Homo sapiens: one gene and its partners. The protein of the gene in region 4 purifies or fractionates together with the protein of the main gene of each other region. This does not show direct contact. Each region holds a gene or a part of one and is shown on either strand. Other genes may lie near its edges.

What was found.
Region 1: the proteins of ANKEF1 (region 4) and UTP4 purify together in Homo sapiens (affinity purification with mass spectrometry; one large-scale study listed by BioGRID and IntAct). This does not show direct contact.
Region 2: the proteins of ANKEF1 (region 4) and EPB41L1 purify together in Homo sapiens (affinity purification with mass spectrometry; one large-scale study listed by BioGRID and IntAct). This does not show direct contact.
Region 3: the proteins of ANKEF1 (region 4) and USP46 purify together in Homo sapiens (affinity purification with mass spectrometry; one large-scale study listed by BioGRID and IntAct). This does not show direct contact.

The regions. Positions count from the first base shown.
Region 1 is NC_000016.10:69,138,239-69,143,768, reverse strand, and holds part of UTP4 (U3 small nucleolar RNA-associated protein 4 homolog), read right to left. Parts: intron 3,945-5,530; coding exon 3,855-3,944; intron 1,627-3,854; exon of another isoform or gene 1,579-1,626; coding exon of another isoform or gene 1,470-1,578; intron 592-1,469; coding exon 380-591; intron 1-379. UniProt on the Homo sapiens protein: Ribosome biogenesis factor. Involved in nucleolar processing of pre-18S ribosomal RNA. Part of the small subunit (SSU) processome, first precursor of the small eukaryotic ribosomal subunit.
Region 2 is NC_000020.11:36,230,520-36,233,299, reverse strand, and holds the end of EPB41L1 (band 4.1-like protein 1), read right to left. Parts: 3' UTR 501-2,780; downstream 1-500. UniProt on the Homo sapiens protein: May function to confer stability and plasticity to neuronal membrane via multiple interactions, including the spectrin-actin-based cytoskeleton, integral membrane channels and membrane-associated guanylate kinases.
Region 3 is NC_000004.12:52,651,974-52,657,503, forward strand, and holds part of USP46 (ubiquitin carboxyl-terminal hydrolase 46), read right to left. Parts: intron 4,567-5,530; exon of another isoform or gene 4,338-4,566; coding exon of another isoform or gene 4,323-4,337; intron 1-4,322. UniProt on the Homo sapiens protein: Deubiquitinating enzyme that plays a role in behavior, possibly by regulating GABA action. May act by mediating the deubiquitination of GAD1/GAD67.
Region 4 is NC_000020.11:10,037,132-10,042,661, reverse strand, and holds part of ANKEF1 (ankyrin repeat and EF-hand domain-containing protein 1), read right to left. Parts: intron 4,405-5,530; 5' UTR 4,361-4,404; coding exon 4,015-4,360; exon of another isoform or gene 1,992-4,014; intron 1-1,991.

The DNA of each region.
Region 1 (5,530 bases), on a different chromosome or scaffold from region 4:
AATATAGGGAGACCCCATCTCTATTTTTTTAATTAAATTAAAAATAAATGCATAAATACAAAGGTATAAACATAGCGCTTCTCCAGATTCTTCTAGGCTGCTGTGCCCTATCTACAATCAAACAAGACGAACTGGAAGTGAGCAGTGTCTAAAGAAAATCTCCCTGCTAACTAATCTCTTGGAGTATCCTGTATTCTCTAACCAATTGTTAGGTACTATGGAAACAATGTGGGTTTTCAGATGCATTTTCCTAAACTCATCTTCCTCCAGTACAACATCAGGATCAGGAACCAGTGTTCATGGCACGTCACTAAGGCTGCTTTCTCAACTCACCCCACAAGGGTGTACATCAACCACTCTAAACAGGGACTGTACTCACGTCAGCTACAGCAATGGACTGCACGTCAGCATTAGCGATGAGATGGCTCTTCACAAGCGTCCCAGTGGCTGAGTCCCAGAACTGCACCTTCCCAGCAGAGTCCACACTTATGATAGTGCCATCGGACAAGAAGGCGACACCCCACACGATGCACTTCCGCTTAGACACGCCCATATACTGCCTGTCCACAATCATCTTATGAACAGCGCTGCCTGAAAAATCAGAAAAGCACACCTTCAAATGGTACTTATTTCTCTGTCTTCAAAATCTGCCTGCGGCCAAAGTGGAAGGACTGCTTGAGCCCTGGAGTTTAAGGCCAGCCTAGGCAACGAAGTGAGACCTCATCTCTACGAAACAACATAACAAACCCGCCTGCGGTAAGCATGATATGGTAGGTGAGCTGACTGAACAGTCAGCCTATAAATGGTAGTTCTGGTGAACCTGATCTCGGAACTCCAAAATGGTTACCTGAAGAGAAGGGGTGTTGGGAGAGCCTAACAGGAAAGGGATAGAAGGTGCAAGGGAGGGAGGAAGGGAGGGAAGAGAATGAGAACAGAAACCCCTTTGGTGGGGTGAAATGGAAAGAGACATTTGGGACATTCACTTAAAGCTGGTCAACTGCACACACACATTACACTCTGCTCTTTTCCAAAATCCCACAGGAAAGGGAGAGATCAGTGACAAAATTTGGGGAACTGGAAAGCAGACAAGTAGTGGCACTGACTTAGCAGAGCCCTGAAACTAAGTCCCAGGTCGGCAGAGAGGAAAGCCAAGAAGCCACCTGATTTATACTATGGAATCCTTGGACTCAGGAATTGGGGACCCCAGATATTCTAGAAAAGGAGTAAGTGGGGCTTCAAAGAGGGATCCGTTAACAGCTGGTAGACCCCTCAGATAGCCATGCCCTGACTAAGAAGGTGGGAAGCTCCCAAAATGCACGTCAGCAGAATACTGGAGACGTTGTCTGAGGAGGGCTATCAGGCAGAAGCAGTATATGAAAACCAGGATTAAGTGAACATTTCTCACTGAATGTTGAGAACACCATTCTTTTTTTTCCCCTTAGAATGCTGATAGCCAGGCCAATACTCACCAGGCAGGAGAATGAAAAACCATTTCTGAGGAACATAACTGACACAAAAGAAAAGATCTGAAGATTCTGGCTTCAGGGCTACCCCAAATAAGCAGTCCAGCCAGATCATTCTTCAGTGAAACCCAAGCTCAGTAAGCCACATGATGCAGTGATGAGATGATCACCAGACATGAGGAAAGCCTTTAACATGAAAGGCAGAGGCCAAACGGACTAACAGAAACAAATAAATGAATAACAGGGAAGAAACAGGCAGAGTGAAAAACACTTGACAATTATTAATAGCCTTAGAGAAGAGTTTCGGGGTGAGGGGAGGGGGGAGGGATAGCATTAGGAGATATACCTAACGCTAAATGACGAGTTAATGGGTGCAGCACACCAGCATGGCACATGTATACATATGTAACTAACCTGCACATTGTGCACATGTACCCTAAAACTTAAAGTATAATAATAATAAAATAAAATAAAATAAAAAAAGAAAGAGAAGAGTTTCTGTATAATGAAACATAAAGAGAATGCTGTAAAAAAGAAGATTCACGAAAAAAAAGAACTCTGGAAATGTCAAAAATGAAAAACTCAATAGAGGATTCAAAGATAAAAAAGACAAACTCTCCCAGAAAGCATAGTAAAAAGACAAAGAAATGAAAAATAAGAGTAAAAGAATTTCCCCCCAGAACTGAAGGACGTGGGTATTGGATTAGAAGAACCTACCAGGTGTCCAGAACAATTAATTGATCCACATACCAAGAAACCTAATTATTACATTTCATAACAGTAAGGATAAAACATCCTAAAAGCTCCTGGGGGAAAAAAAAATAAAACAGGTCCTACACAAAGGGATAACTCTCAGAATGGCAGCTTACTTGCTAATAATACGAGGAGCTGGAAGACAGCGGAGCCAGGGCTTCAGAATTCTAAGGGAAAAGAATTTCCAACCTAGAATTCTTTCTCATGCACTCTTACTCAGGATCCACCAAAGGGTAAACCAAGAAAGTGAATAACACAGAAATGGGAGATCCTATCCGATAGAGAAGCAAAGGAGATCCCGAGAACAATGGAAAAATCAATCAGAGTTTCAGATCTCACAGCTGTGCAGCAGGCCCAGAGTGGCTAAGCCAGATGGGAGTGGGTCAGAAGGCACCGGGAGGGACTTATTCACAAAGATAAAAGTGGAGAAAGAAAATCAGATGGACTTGAACCTAATTTATGCAACTGGAAAAATGTGGGAATGTATCAGTAAGACAGAGAGACAGAGACACTATTAAACAATAAGTATACCGGAAAAGAAAGAAAATTTACTATGTGAGTAGTATATACATAGTCATAATAATGAAAACATCAATTACTAATTTGAACAAAGTTATAATATAACCATACTGGGAGGATCGGGAGGAAGTGTGGATGCCTGTGGCAGACGGTAGAAAAAGAGGGGCAAGTTGCAGAAGTCAGTAAAAAATGGTCTAAAGCTGAAAAATCAAAATGTAGCATAAAAAGCATGCTAGGATCTGCAGTGATAGATACCAAAAGAATCAGCTAAGGGTCACAAGTGGTTGCCTCGAGGAGAGTGAGAGAGATATAGAAGGACTCCCTCTTTTTTGTAATAAGCTTAAGGGATTTTTTTTTTTTGAGACGCAGTTTCACTCTTGTTGTCAGGCTGGAGTGCAATGGGGCGATTCTCCTGCCTCAGCTTCCTGAGTTGATGGGAATACAGGCATGCACCACCACCCCGGCTAATTTTGTATTTTTAGTAGAGACAGGGTTTCTCCATGTTGGTCAGGCTGGTCTTGAACTCCCGACCTCAGGTGATCCACCCACCTCGGCCTCCCAAAGTGCTGGGATTACAGGCATGAGCCACCGCGCCCAGCCAACCTGTTTTATCTCTGCATCTCAGACGGAAATACAGACATGTCCACCTAACAAGTTGAGATCAACCCTATCAATGAAGGATTCTATGAAGCCAATTTTCCAGGCCAAGAACAGAAAATATCATGGTTCTCTGCTTTTCTGATCTCATGTTTCACCAATTATGCTACAAAAATCTTATGTTCCTCAATGACAGAAGCCCATTTTTACCAAGGACTGGGATCTATAAATAGGTAATTCTACTGTTTATAGTACACGAATGTACTAGTTCAGAGTATTTTATTGTGAATTCTTATTACGATGAATGAAAAATACTATATCTTACTGAAGATCCAAGATTCCCCTAAAAGCAGTGGTAGTAATCCAAGAAAGGAGTAAAATTAATTGTGGACATCTCAGAAGATTAATGACATGTTAGGCCATAAAGGTCATGAAACCATGACAAAGGCTCAAGCTTTTGAAAACTCAGAAATGTGAATCTGACAAAACCCACACCCCAAATGAACTGAAAAAAACAATCACCTGATTTGACATCAAACACACTAATGTAGTCTATGGAACCAGCTGCAATGTGGGTACCAGAGGGATGCCAGCTGAGACTCAGGATGCGACCTTGGGAGTTGGACAACAAAAAAAGAAAGTGACATACACATAAATATACGAAGAGTAACTGAGCTCTCTTCCCACAACTATCTCTAGAGTGTTCTACAATCTTAGCTCTCTCATCTATAGTACTCCTTGAAGCACCATTTTATTTATTTATTTATTTATTTATTTATTTATTTATTTATTTATTTTTGAGACGGAGTCTCCTCTGTCGCCCAGGCTGGAGTGCCGCAGTGGGATCTCGGCTCACTGCAACCTCCGCCTCCCAGGTTCAAGTGATTCTCCTGCCTCAGCCTCCCTAGTAGCTGAGATTACAGGCACCTGCCACCATGTCTGGCTAATTTTTGTATTTTTAGTGGAGATGGGGTTTCACCATGTTGGCCACGCTGGTTTCGAACTCCTGACCTCAAGTGATCCACCCGCCTCAGCCTCCCAAAGTACTGGGATTACAGGTGTAAGCCATCGTGCCCAGCTGAGACACCTATTTTCTATTTCATACTTGACAAAATGTATGAGATTTTTAAAAAGCATTGTATTACCTTTGTAATTGAGAAAGAACACCCAGGCCGGGTGCAGTTGCTCATGTCTGTAATCCCACCACTTCAGGAGGCCGAGGTGGGTGGATCACGAGGTCAGGAGGTCAAGACCAGCCTGGCCAACATGGTGAAACCCCGTCTCTACTAAAAACACAAAAACTAGCCGGGCATGGTGGCACGCACCTGTAGTCCCAGCTACTAGGGAGGCTGAGGCAGGAGAATTGCTTGAACCCAGGAGGCAGAGGTTACATTGAGCCAAAATCACGCCACAGCACTTCAGCCTGGGCGACAAAGCAAGACTCCATCTCAGGAAAAAAAAAAAAAAAAAAAAAAAAAGAGCACCCAAGATATATTAAAAACGAAGCAAGAATCTGATTAGCAGAGGATAAGTATTACTAATGGACACAGAGGACATTTGCTATTCTAGAAGATGGGTCACCAAACTGTGGCCCACAGGCCAAATCAGGCCCACTGCTTGTTTTTGTAAATAAAGTTTTTACTGGAGCACAGCCTGCCCATTAGTTTCAGTATCGTCTATGGCTGCTTTTGCACTACACTGACAGAGTTGGCAGACAATGTAGGTTTGGCAAAGCCTAAAATGTTTACTATCTGGTCCTTTACAGAAACAGTCTGCCAACCCCTGTTCTAAAGGGTCAATGCCAATTCAGCCCAGGTGGAGCCCAAGGATGGGCAACTGTTTATAAACTCCCTCATTCAACTTGAATGCACCAGAAGGATTAAGAACCACAGTTCCTTGGCCAGGGCAAGTGGCTCAGGCCTGTAATCCCAGCACTTGAGGCCAAGGCAGGTGGATCACTTGAGTAAGACCAAGAGTTCGAGACCAGCCTGGCCAACATGGTGAAATCCTGTCTCTACTAAAAATACGAAAATTAGCAGGGCACGATGGCACGTGCCTGGAATCCCAGTCACTTGGGAGGCTGAGGCACCAGAATCACTTGAAGCCGGGAGGCGGAGATTACAGTGAGCCGAGATCATGCCACCGCCACTGCCAGCATGGATGACAGAGTGACACTCTGCCTCCAGAAAAAAAAAAAA
Region 2 (2,780 bases), about 26 Mb from region 4:
CACGTCCTGGGGCCTGTATGCTTACTGTTCCCTCTCCTAGAATGTGCACCAAAGTTCCTCGCCTTTGTTGATTGATCCTTCTTTTCATTCAGCTCACAGATCGCCTCCTCAGGGAGGCCTTACCTGGCCACTGTATTTAAAGTGGTCTCCTTCAGTGACCCTCCTTCCCTTCTCCCGGTGTATTTCCTTCCTAGTGCTGAGTGCTCTGTAACGGACTGTTTGCCTGTGTTGGCATCTGTTTCCTCCACTAGCCTGTGGGTTCATGAAGGGCAGGGACTTTTGTCTTGTTTGTGTTGTGCCTGGAGAGTCACCCAAGGCCTGGACCACCTTGAGTTCCAAATATTTGTTGCATAAACATGTTCTAAGTTGGGATGTCTCCACTTCAGTTTTAGCCCCTCCCACAGTGCCAACTTGTACCAGTGGCCAAAGTCAGAGAGAGACAGTGAGAGAGAGAGAGAGAGAGAGAGAGAGAGAGAGAGAGAGGAGAGGTGCCAAGGAAGTATGGTTCAGCATCAAACACATTTATTTCACTTATATTGAGTATACAAGAACAGAGAGCACACGCATACAGCACGGAGCACTGAGGTGGGGGAGCATGGGGACGAGAAAGGAGAGAAGGGTGTGAGTAAAAAGGAACAGGACAGCATCGCAATTGGTTGTTAAGGTGCTTTTGAAAAAAAAAATTATTTCGAGTGATGTTGCTCATGCAGTTTCAGGCCAGTCTTGGAATGTGCTTGCAGGATTCAAAAACTGAAACAGGTCCTGGTACTTCCTGTACCCTCAGATGGAAAAGATCCAGAGAAAACAAAATAAGAGAAAATGAAGACCCATGAGATAGCAAAGTAGAAAAAGACCCTGGAGAGCATCTGGTTCTTTCTGCTTATTTTGCAAGTCGGGAAACTGAGGCCCAAGAGGGGGAATGGGGATAGCCTGATGTCACATGGTGAGTTAGGAGCTGAGCCAGGATGGTCACCCAGAACTCCTAACCGCCCTCAGGGACTTTTTCCACTATGCTACATGGCCTCCTGGGTGGAGAGGTGGCACAGAGAGGATGAGAAACAAAAAAGAGAAAAGGAAAAGTAGGTTGAAGACAGACAAGACAAACGTCTCTATTCTCTACAAAGAGAAGGATGGGGAGGAAACAGTGCCCTAGATTCTAGCTTTGCAGGTCCCCTCCTCCCTCGTGGCACTGCCTGCATCTCCGTAGAAGGGAGGTCACAGCATCCGCGGGATGGTGATTTCCCCAAACCCTGGTGGCCCATAAACTCCACAAGCTAAGCCTGGTCACTTCACCCCTGCCCCAAAGCCAGGTGCAAAATCCACAACAAGGATCCTCCCTCTGAGGTGTGTTCAGTGTGCTCAGGACTCCTGGTTCCTGCAAAGATGAGTTCCTAGACCGAAGTGGCCCAGAGAGGATGGAGCCACCACTCCAGCTCTTGACCCAGAAAGAGGGGGAACTCTCAAGAAGGGCAGGAAGAAGGTTCTGTGGCTTTTCCACCAGGATTGTAGAAAGAACCTGGTGTATGGAAAGTGTGCTGCTACACTCAGGGGGAGTTGGAGTGGACCCACCGGCCTGCACCAGGGGGAATGCCACTGATTCTGCTGCCCCGCTGAACTTCCCATTTGCCCAGAGAAGCAAATGCTATTCTGATTTCCTGCCCTGCCTCAGGCCAGCACCAGCTAAGCAGCTAAGGTGTATGTCATCACTGACAAGCCAAAGGGACGCATCTAACCTGGGCCGCCTGGGGGCATCCCTGGGCTATGCCCCGATAGGTTGGCGAGAGTGGGGAGATGCTCTCAGATGGGCCAGCCATGGTTGAAATATAAAGCTGGCTCAGGTGGCTCCTCAGGTTCCGCCCTCCCCTCCCACCTTCTTCAGCCTGAGAATAGTCCCTGGCACAAGCAGGTAATCAGTAAATACTTGTGGAATGAATTTATTAACTGGTTTAGAAGGAGGACTGGGAGGTAAAATGGAACTGAGAAATTCGCAGTGCAGTGGGACATTTTCCCTCATCAAGGGGCACTTTCTGAGCTCAGAGAAGTAGCTTGTGGCAGACAAGCCTGAGGAAGCCCACGTGTGGCAGAGAGCAATGCCAAGCTTGTGATGGGAGCTTCTTGAAGGGTTCCTGTGGTCTTGGGGTAATTTCTGGGCACAAGCTCAGAGTTCAGCTGTTGACTGAGAGGGAGGTCTCCAAGCCAAGGTCTTATGCAGAGCTGGAGCCTATGAGCAACATCACCCGTCAGTCTCAGCTTTGTCCTGGGACAGGGGAGGGCTTTGCAAATGCAGTTTTGATCTTTCAGGGTCTGCCCCATGAAGCCTCCTTACCATGGCTACTTTGGCCTGAGAAGAAGAAATGATTCAGAACAAGGAAGAGAGTAGAGGAAAAGGCTTAGCTGGGAATTTTTAGACAGTCAGGTTAAAGCCACCATCTTCTACAATGGCTGAGAGCACCACCTCCCTTTGGATATGGAGTTGGTTATTACAATGGGGTCAGGGAAGGGCAGAATGTGGCAAAAAAAAAAAAAAGAGAGAAAGAGAGAGAAGACTGAAAACCAAGGCAAGCCCCGTAGGGAGATAAGGACTAAGCCAGGGACCTCTACTGTGGCAACTTCAGCAGCAGAGTCCCAGACTGGGACCCAGTACCTGAGCACAGACCAGGCCCTGACTGTTACTACCAGGGGGGCAGGGAGAAGGTGTCTTGAACTGGCATTTTGGGGACGACATCTGTGTTGCTTCTTTCTTGCCAAACCCACACCTCTCCATTAGGGCCCCCCACCCC
Region 3 (5,530 bases), on a different chromosome or scaffold from region 4:
CATGACTTTTGCTTTGGTCTCCTTGATTTTCCTCTTCACTGTCCCTTCTTCATTGTCCCTGTTTTCAGACAAAACCAAAACTACAATCCTGACTTTCAAGACCTGGAAAACTGTTCTCAGGCCCCTGAGTTGAAAACAAACCAGCATAACAAACACATGAAAAGATGTTCAACCTCCCCTAGCAAACAGGAAAAGTGCAAATTTTAAACCACAAAGGCACAATGTCACACCCATCAGACTGGCAAAACATCAAGTCTAGCAATATCAAATATCTGCAAACATGTGAAGCAACTGGAACCCCCAAACGCTGCTTGGTTGGAATGCAAATTGGCATAACTTCTTTGGAGAGCAATCAGGCAACTTATTAAAGAAGACGATCAAATTCCTTTGACCCAGCAATTCCCTTCCAGGTTTACACCACAGAGAAACTGTCAACTGTCAACTGTGTATACTATACACAGGGAGATGAGTTCACAACTGTTCATTGCATTAAAACAGCACACTCACAAATTTGTAAACCTGCTTACAACATTAAAATGAATGTGTCATAGCATATTTATATAATGGAATGTTATACAGCAGTTAAAATAAACTAGGATTATGTGTCTCTCAATGGATAAATAGCAAAATCACAATTTAAACAATAAAAGCAAACTGAGAGGAATGTTTAATATTATAAAGCATGTTTAAAACATGAAAAAATACACTATATCTAGTTTATGAATGCATACAAATCTAGTAAAAATATAAAAATATACAATAAACACTAAATGCAGAATAGTGGTCACTCTGTGGGGAGAGGCAATGAGATCAGGAAGGACTCATAGGTGGTTTTAAATGTATATATAGTATTTTATTTCTTCACTGGGTGGGGAGTACACGAGTATTCACTCTATTATTCCACATTTCTGTATGTCTAAAATTCACCATCACTCAGAAAAAAAGGCAAAGTCTGAGCTAATTTAAAAAGTATCTGAGGGTTCTAAAAGTGACATTGGAACTTGAGGAAGAAAAGGAAGGTTGGCCCTATGAGGGTAAAGTGAAGCTTTGGCGACCACAGAGTCCCATCACCATGATCTTAAAACTATCCATTGCAAAGAATCATTCTGAGAATTGGGGTAAACTTCCATGTACAGCACTTACAGCATCCCTCAAACTTCAAGCCATAGTCCCAGAAGAGAAATATTCCAAAAACCCTTTACTGTTAGGGTTGTTCGCTAACACAGAGTTCGTCTCAAGAATGTTTTCGTGGCAGGGCACAGTGGTTCACACCTATAATCCTAGCACTTTGAGAGGCTGAGGCGGGCGGATCACCTGAGGTCAGGAGTTTGAGACCAGCCTGGCCAACATGGTGAAACCCTATCTCTACTAAAAATGCAAAATTAGCCAGGCATGGTAGCAGGCAACTGTAATCCCAGCTGCTCAGGAGATTGAGGCAGGAGAATCACTTGAATCCAGGAGGCAGAGGTTGCAGTGAAGCCATCGCACTCCAGCCTGGGCAACAAGAACAAAACTCTATCTCAAAAAAAAAAAAAAAAAAAAAAAAGATTTTGCTGATTGATTTTTGGGTGGCCTTTTCTCTTAAAGACCACCAAGGCCTTTCAAACCCTTAGATCAGCATTTGGTTCCACCACAACTGAAGGTTTGTTATAAGAAGCTGCATTAAAATAATTAGACCAGAAAAGTTAACTAGACTAAAAGACACCATCTTTTACATCTCTTCCAGTTAGTTAGCTTTGGGTGGCTTCATGGGTAAGCTAGAGATAGAGATAGGTGGTTACCAAATACCTTTCTGATGATACCACAGAATTTAATACCATCATGGAACCCCAATCTATTCACACTAACTAGAAAGACCAGGAGGGGGAAAAAAAAGACATCTGAGCTAGAGAAATTTCTCTTAATTGCTAAGAGAATCAAAATTGAAAATGCCTTTCAATTATAACCCAAACATACCAAAATTCCACTTAGTGAAGAATAAATAAACAGATTTTATGGTATGAGTGAACTGAAGCACATAAAGTTGTTATACAGAAAAGGTATCATAATCTTTCATTCTAACTAAATACCAGCATTCAACTTTGTTTTCTCTGAGGAGTCCAAGAAAAACAGAAAAATCCGCAGAACTAATTGTCAGGTCCCGACCTAATATAAACCTCTGCATATGAGACCAGTGGGGCCAGAAAAACAGAATTTCTTTTCTTTAAACATTAATCCACCTCACCTCAGACTGTATTTTCTAATCCCAGCAACTATCAGAGTAGACCCTCATATGACTTTACACCTAGCTGATATATTAACTAAACTTATAATTGCCAACTATCTTTGAGAATGGAAAGCATGAATAACAGTAACAGAGGAAAAGGCAAGATATCTGTTCCCCCAAATCACAAGATGGACATATTTTTTAATAATTAAAAAGTTGTTTCCAACCATTCTCAAAATACTTGCCTTAGGTAAGTAGTTGACTTATCAAGATAAAACTATAAAAATACTCTAGTTTTGTTTCAAAATTGTAATGTTTACTTTCCCTTTATTTCCAGATAACTTCATTTATTTATATGATACATTTTTATTTACATGATTTTGTTTGTTTCTTTTTGGTAGAGATTGGGTCTCACTATGTTGCCTAGGCTGATCTTGAATTCCTGGGCTCAAAGAATCCTCTTGCCTCGGCCTCCCAAAGTACTGGTATTACCAGTGAGCCACCATGCCCAGCCTACCTCATTTATTTAAAAGAACTAAAATCTGGCACTCAAACTGATGTCAAAAATTATCCTGAGGCTGTTCTACAGACGCTAAAATGCTAACATGTCATAAGTTCAATACAGTTTTAAACAAGGTAGTTAGGTAATGAAGTGGTTGCTAACCAATTAAGAGGTGCAGATTTTCATAAAGCCTTTATCTAAGGAATTCTACCATGAAGTTTTTCATGACCAAAAACAGAAAATCAGTTTTACAAGATGAGAAAAACTAAGGTCTCCGGAAATACAACAGTTTGCCCAAAAGCACCATTAGATTCATGCTTAACTGGAGAGACACCCAATGGTGCAGATTTCAATTCTAACTCACATTGACTACAATCATGTCCTCATATAAAATAAAAGCCAGAAGCAGAATGTGTATACAACTTTGGTCAAACGAGAATGTATTTTTGAAATGTCCTGTTGTGTTAATCGGTCTTTCCACTGTACAGCTGCTGGGAGTTTATTCAACTTCTATCTGTGCTGATATAACACTGTATTGAAATTGTTTCATCTTTACCAATGTTAACACCCACAAGATAAGGAACAGCTGAGCCCCTTGGGGACAGGGACTCACCTCATTCATTTATTAAGCACTTGAGTATAGTCTGTGCCAACACCAACATAGCAGGTCCTCAACAGATGGCCATTTATCGGAACAAAACTCGTAATCATTTGATACACAGCATTTTCTCAGAGGTACATCTTACAGCATTATTAACAAATGAAATAAGATTAGATGATCTGAAGCAACTTGCATTGGTATGTCACATTTGGTTTCTTCTAACTAATGCTTCCTTTTTAGAAAATTTCTCAAGCTCTTCAAATAGGAAACTTAAAAAACCCAAAAACAAAAACTTTCCATTTGCAGGGCCATAAAAATATATAGGAAGTTAAATCCATTGGTCTGGACAAAAATCAGAGGATTATCAACAGAAGACATTTCCTCATGCTTGGTAGCAGCTAGTGCATTATGAAAATTACAACACACCAGCCAAACAAGCTTTACTATCTCTGAACCACACACTGCTGTGTGGCCAAGCTGCCTTGCCCTGAGCAAGTTCATCAAGAATTACCATGGCAGGAATTCACATGGAAGAAAAATTAAAACAAATAGAAACTAGTACTAAACTTCCAGTGAACAATAAAACTTCAGCAAGTGGGTGGGTAAGTGGAGGAATGAAGATATTTTCCAAGTTTCCTATAACTAAAACTGGCACAAGAAGTATGGGGAAAAGAGGGGATGTTTAGTTCTCAATCACACGAAGTATCTGCTACAAATTTGATTTCTGCTCTGCTGGGTCCTTTCTTATCTGGTGGAGGAAACAAATCCACTTTCAATGATAGATCTTCGTTTTTTCCTGTTACCCAGAAAAATGGTACCTTCTAATATCCTTTCTGAACACATATCAGCCTGTTCAAAATATGTTAAACGATGTGCTTAAGAAAAAAATGCAATCACCATTTGCTCTTACTACAACTACTCAAACCAGCTGGGACCAAAGTTAGGAGCGGGAAGGGTCAGTAAGAGGCCCACAGAGGAGCTAAGCAGTGAGAAGGGACCTGTAAGACACCTACCTGAAAACAATTCATTATTGAGCAAAGAATCTAAAGAGAGGTCCAGTTAATATTTACGTCTGATCCAGTGAAAAGACAGCAGTTTCCTCATACCCAGCCTTCTCCTCTGGGAAGGAAGACTGGGAGGGACAGTGGGGGCGGTGGGTGGGGGATTGACCTGAGCAGGGGGCGGGGTTAAGGATTCCCACTCCAGCCTTCCTATACATGGGAGGTGTTTATATTAGTGGTTGCTTCCACCAGGTCTGAAATGGCATGATCTCCACTGTCCCTTAAACACCTGGTAGATGACATAACAATGAGAAAGATGATGTTGACAATGACACTCACTGAGTTCTAGCCATGTACCAGGCCCTGTGCCCGAGTAATACAACAATATTAACATCACCTTTTGGTAGATAAGGAAAGTCTAAGACCGGACAACTTGTTCAAGGACACAAAGCCAACATGTGTTAGAACCAGGACCTGCCGGGTATGGTGGCTCACGGCAGTAATTTGGCGCTTCGGGAGGCTGAGGTGGGAGGACCACTTGAGCCCAGGTATTAGGGACCAGCCTGGGCAACATAGGGAGACCCAGTCTCTATGGAAAATTTAAAAATTAGCCAGGCATGGTGGCACGTGCCTGTAGTCCCAGCTACTCAGAAGGCAGAGGTGGGAGAATCACTTGAGCCTGGGAAGTGGAGGCTGCAGTGAGCCACCATGTTCATGCCACTGCACTCCAGCCTGGGTGACAGTGTGAGACCTTGTCAAAAAAAAAAAAAAAAAAAAAAAGAACCAGGACCTGAACCCAGGAAGTCTGACATTAGAACCCAAACTCTGTCACTCTCTAGACATGGCGTCTAAATACAACATCAGACTCCTTACTTAATGAATTACTGGTTCCTCACTTCATCTGGGTGATGGTCCTAAATTTGGTACCTTTTTAGGTCTCCACCTGAGATGTCAACTCTCAGGGCAGTATTGGCCTGCTCCTCTCAGGTCCTCCCCACACCCTGTCTCCCTGACTGAGTTTCACTGAAACACGTTGTGACATTCAGCCCAGGTGTGCCAGAAAGCCCCCGCAGCACTGAGGGTGGGTGGGGGGACGCGTGGGGGGAGGTTGGGGGCTGGCTTCCTCTAGGGGCATGCTAGCTCTCAAGTTTCCAGCCTGCTTCTACACAGAGAGGTGTAACCACACACAAGCAGGACAAGAACACCACCAAGGGCTGGGT
Region 4 (5,530 bases):
CAGTAAAGAGGTGAATTAGATGCCAAGTGGCTAATTAGATGGCAAGTGCCTCTGCCATTTTAGCAAATCATTTTGTTCCGTTGGAGAAAGGAACATGCTAAATCCCTACACCCAGGACCTGTAACATACAGGCCTTCAATATAATCCATGTCAAAAGCATACTACACATCAGGGTTACTGTTATAAACCCAGGGCAGAGTGTTACTAAGAAAGTCCTAGGTAAATAACAATCAGACTCCAAACTGACTTTGTAACGAGTTCATTCCAAAAAAGGGACTCCATTCAAAGAATAACCAAAAAAGAAACCACTATGCAACCTATTAAAAAAAAATACTGCAAGGAAAAAGGAAACTGATACTGAAAGCCACGCAAAAAGGATACATACTAGAAAAGATATACCAGTGAAAATTACTGGCTAATTCATTTCCATGATAGCAAAGAAACTAAATATAACTTGTTCTAAAATGAAAGTGCAAAGATAGACCTGAATCTTAAGATTAAAAGGGTACGTTGGGTCTTAGGAAAAGTTGATTAAGAACAGTCAACAAGGCATGCCTAGGTAAAGCTAGGCAAAGAAAGTGTCTCATAAGAATCCAGGCAAAAATTCAACTAATCCATGAAGGGGAAAAGTCCAGCTGCCCTCAAAAATTTATCACAACAACATTCAATGCTACAGTATAATCAAAGGATCTCTACACTATAACTTGGGGAAAAAAAACAGGAAACTTTTATACCCAATCAAGACTTTGTTCATGTAAAAACAACAGACATGTATAGTCTTAAGGATATAAGTAATCAGGGATACAAGCCCAAAGAAGTGACTTAAACTACTTGATGGCAAAAGTGAGTTTTCCAAGAGATCAATAGAGAATATGTGACTAAAAGAACAGTCATAAATACTGAATCTCTTTAGCCACAGAACCAAAGCTAAGTCACCTTAGCAATTTTAGATAGAGAAAAATATATTGCAATTTGTAATAATGTAAAAATAATATAATTTATCAAAAATTTGAGGGAAGGAAGGAGAAATAGTATAAGTATTTGATCTTCTCATCTTTTAGGGCTAAGACTGAGATATTATGTAAAGCAGGTAAGGAAATAAAGTACAAGGTACTTATTATTTAAAAGGGAATCATTGAAAGAACTAAGTAATTATAATTGAGTATAAAATTGAGTGGTAGAAGGGAAGTAGCAGAGGTAAGAGGAAGGGTTATTGTACTAATCTTATCTAATTTATACTATTGTACTAATCTTACTAAACAGAGTAAAGAATCAATGAATACTGTTTAAGATGCTAACTCAATAAACAGGTTTAAGGGCATATGAAGTATCAAGTTAACCATTAAAATAACTAAAAAAAAATAAAAAAACTAAAATAACTAAAAAGCCCATCAATTTTAGAAAATACACTTACAAGCATATAAAGAAAAACACACATATACAGCAAAGTAAAACAAATCTATGGACCATATATGACAATACTTTCACATGTATTTTATATATTAGATATATTTTGCCTTCACAATATAAAATAAATGATGTTTCTGAAACCAACCCTATGGGAAATCTAGATAACTATAAATTGGATAAATTCCACCATTAAAATAAAAAATAAAATGTATATGAAAATCAAAACCTAAATATATTTTATATAAACTGATGTACCTAAAGTAGGGTTACTCAGAACAGTTAAAAAAAAAAAGAAAAGATTGTCAAGGTTATTATTGAAAAGAGAAAGTCAAAGAAAGAGCAAGACATAGAAGGCAGGAACAGAGCAAAACAACAACAGCAACAGCAAAACAACCTAAGCATAATACCCGAGGAGGCTGAATTCATTACAAAAGGCCCAGAGCCACTTATGAAATGAATATTTCATAATGATGGCATGTGCAACACACAGTTAAAGTGTATCTGGGCTGACTCCTTAAGCCACAAAGAACACGAATCAGCATTCCTAAATTGAAGGGAAAACAGTTTGAAAAATATTGTACCTTATCATAGAACTGGCATACGGCATTGAGGACTGAGTACACATGCCTGTAAATGCAAAAACCAATGGAATGGGAATGGGTGCTATAAGGAACTATTATAGCTTAACTTTTAAGGAGAATGATTCCACATTGTAATTAATTCCCTAGGACAACATACAAGAAAGAATGTATTGGCTTAGAGCTTTACCTTCTCCATATTCTGTAAAACTGTTCCAAGAGAAAGTGCCGCTTAGGCCTAGGGCATGTCTCACATCCTAAAGACCCACTTAGCCATTTAAATGTTTGCTTATCCTTTAGGAACGATGTACAGTGAGTCAAACATGAGTCACCAGAAAATAGGATGTCAATGACAGAGAGGGTACTGTGGAATAAGCAAAGCACTTTGGCCACTGGCAGCCAAACTGAGGGATGTGCAAGCTGAGTGAGCCTTGTTGATGTGGGAAGAGACAATGTACTCTGTACAATGGGCACTACCTTGGGTTATGCAGAGTGAGGGCTGCAGGCAGCCATCCTAACAAGCTTATGTGTGAAACAAGATTTTACATTTGTTTCCTTTTATAGTTTCAGTTCTGCCCATGAGATTTGTTTCCTTTAGCCATATGCCTGTTGCATTTGCTGCAAGTATTTACTTGACCTTGTTTCCAATTTTACCTTGATTTTTTAAAAAAAATTTACACTTTTACATTGTTACACTATAGAATTTCTTTTTTCTTTGTGATTTGTATCTGTTTCAAACTCAGTAAGTTAAACGTTTCTCTATTATAGTGTTTCCCAAAGGTTAGTCCACAAAACTCCAGGCATATAAGATGTCATTAAAAAAAATTATTTTGTGGTCAAATAAATATGGAAAATGTCACCATTTTTGAGCCAACAATGTGAAAGATAAATGCCTAAAATGTGTCTCTAATGAATGCGACCGTGGAACCAATTTTGCCTGTAGTACTTCTCAACATCCTGGCAATTCAGTGGTCCATGGAACACACTTTGGGAAATGGTATACTATAGAGCTTTGAGAGGATACCGTTTTTTCAGGATTTAGCATTTCAAAGTACATCTGGCCCCTGAATGCATCTGAAGTTTATTTTCTTACGTGGTACAATTAAATATGTAATTATCCCTTTTCTTTGTCCTCTTTTGTTCTAAGCAAGTAATCATATCAAACACCAAGTCTGGAGAGAGTTAGAAAAGTAGATTTTGCTCTTGTCAGTAAATATTCACATTATCAAATGAGATTCATTTCTCGATTGCAGAGCTGATGTTAATGGCCTTGTATCTGCAGAAACTCAGGACAACTGCTCAAACCTATCAGTTTACATTAAGCTTATTGGTAATTATCTCAGTTATTTTTATGAGGCTGTGTCAATTCTTGCCTGAACCTTAAGTTATTTGGGCAAGAAGTCCTCAGACCATGGTCTTGAGATGATGGGATTAACGGTGTGGAAGTGCAGTTGTTTGATCTGAATCATTGTTGAAAGGTCATGTCTAAAGTTTGAAGTTGTATTTCCAAATACATTTTTAAATGATCCTAGAAAGTTGGAGTTTATGCCAGAATTGACTTTAGTCCTTTCAAGTTTCCAAGTGCAAGTCCTTCCTACATCAGACTGCTATTGAGGGGGTCAAAATCCTTTTGGAGTCCTAGGTGTAGTACTGCCTGAAATTCTAAAATGTAAAAAAGAATAAGAAATGCTCTACTTCATCTTTGTTTTAAAGAAGAGTTTATAATTTATAATGAATAATCAGTGTGTATAATGTTCAAAATTCTCCTCATTTAAAAGAAACCACCAAACACAAATTAATCTAAGTATATGAGCAAGCTCTCATAAATGATTTCCCTAAGATATAGCTATCTCATTTTCAAAGTATGAGGAGACAGTAGGTTTAGGTATAGGAGTGAGAATTTAGCCTTTCCCTTAAAACCATAAGTAATTCACTTCTAAAGTTGGAAAACAAAAAGAGTCCATGTTATTGCTTTCTGGCTACAAAATGAATTGCAATCTGCTGGAGAGGATGTCGGGATTTTTACCTTTTCCTTCATTATCAACTATAGTCATATCAGCCTTTGCCTTTGCTAATATTTCCATTGACAATTCATGGCCCAGTTCTGCAGCCCTCATTGTGGGAGTACAGCCCATTCGGTCTTGCACATCAGGGTGAGCACCAAGGTCAAGGAGAAAGCTGACCATATCAATATCATTGGAAACTGAGGCTAAGTGCAAAGCACTAAGTCCATTAATGGGTTCTGTATAATTGATTAGTTCAGGGTATCCAAGCTTGGTCAGCTTCTCTATCTGCTTCTTGTCTTTGTTCCGCACACATTGAAGAACTTTGTAGATCTGTAAGTTCTCAAGTCTCTTATCTGCTAAAGCCATGCTTGACCAGCTCCTTGAAAATGCTTTCTGGACCAAAACTAAAGCTGAAGCAACAAAAAAGAAAAATAACTCAAAGTTAATTTTATCATCTTCATTTTGATTAAATAACAATATTTTGGAACTTCCTTAAGAACAGAGATTGTTTTTTAAGAAATGTTCAGAAAGTAGGATTTATACATAAATATCAAAAATATTGAGTGGGCATAAAGTTAAAACAGTTCAAACAAATCTTCCATCATAATTAAAAATAGTTTGCCAGGTGGTTTTCTTATTATCCATTTAACCTTCCCTCCTCATCACACTTTACCATTTTACCATGAAGAAGCTGAGGTTAACTAAATTGCCATGGTAAGGGTTTGAGTTCCCACCATCTATCTACATGGTTTCACACCAGCAAAATAGAGAGATCATGCAGGTTTTAATAGTTTTAAGGTGTTATAAAAACATATAATTTTGAGGTGTTCATTATAAACAAATCTACTGGGCTCTGTAACATATCAGAGATGTGATGAGTGATTCCTATGTCATCTTAAGTGGAAAAGATGTAGTTAAATGGCTGCAAGGAAACTGCAAATCTTCATAAACAATCTCCCTGTTAAATTGTGATGGGCATTCTAGTATGTAATTTTACCTCCTTGTACGGAAAATCTTTTGGATTGAGTAGCAGGCCATGCTAGGTATGACCAGTTGTTTCTTCATTTCTTATGAGAAAAGAACTCCATTATCACATAGGGAATCCTATCCGGGTCGTTTGGATGGGGCTGTCCCTTCTGTCCCCTGCCAGAGGAAAGCGTCTGTGGCCTAGGCTTGGCCCATTTGAGGGAACCATCCCTTTCCAGGTACACTGAAGCTCAAGCATATGTGCATAAAAGACATCAACCAATCAGCAGCCCATCATCCAGAACTATGAGGGAAGACTATTCTGCTGAAGTTGTTAAGCAGTATGGTGTGGGGCTGGGGCGCAGGTAGCTCTCTTGGGTGCCACAGAGAGAGTCCATGCTTGGAGGATGGAGAGAGACTGAGATTGATGGCATTAGTTGCAACATGGATTCCATGGTGCCAGAAGCCATCTACCACTTTGTGGGTAAATACATCTTCTCCCCCGTCACCTTATTTTGGTATAAGCTAGTTAGCTAAGTTTCCAACATTTGCAATGAAAAGATTCCATCT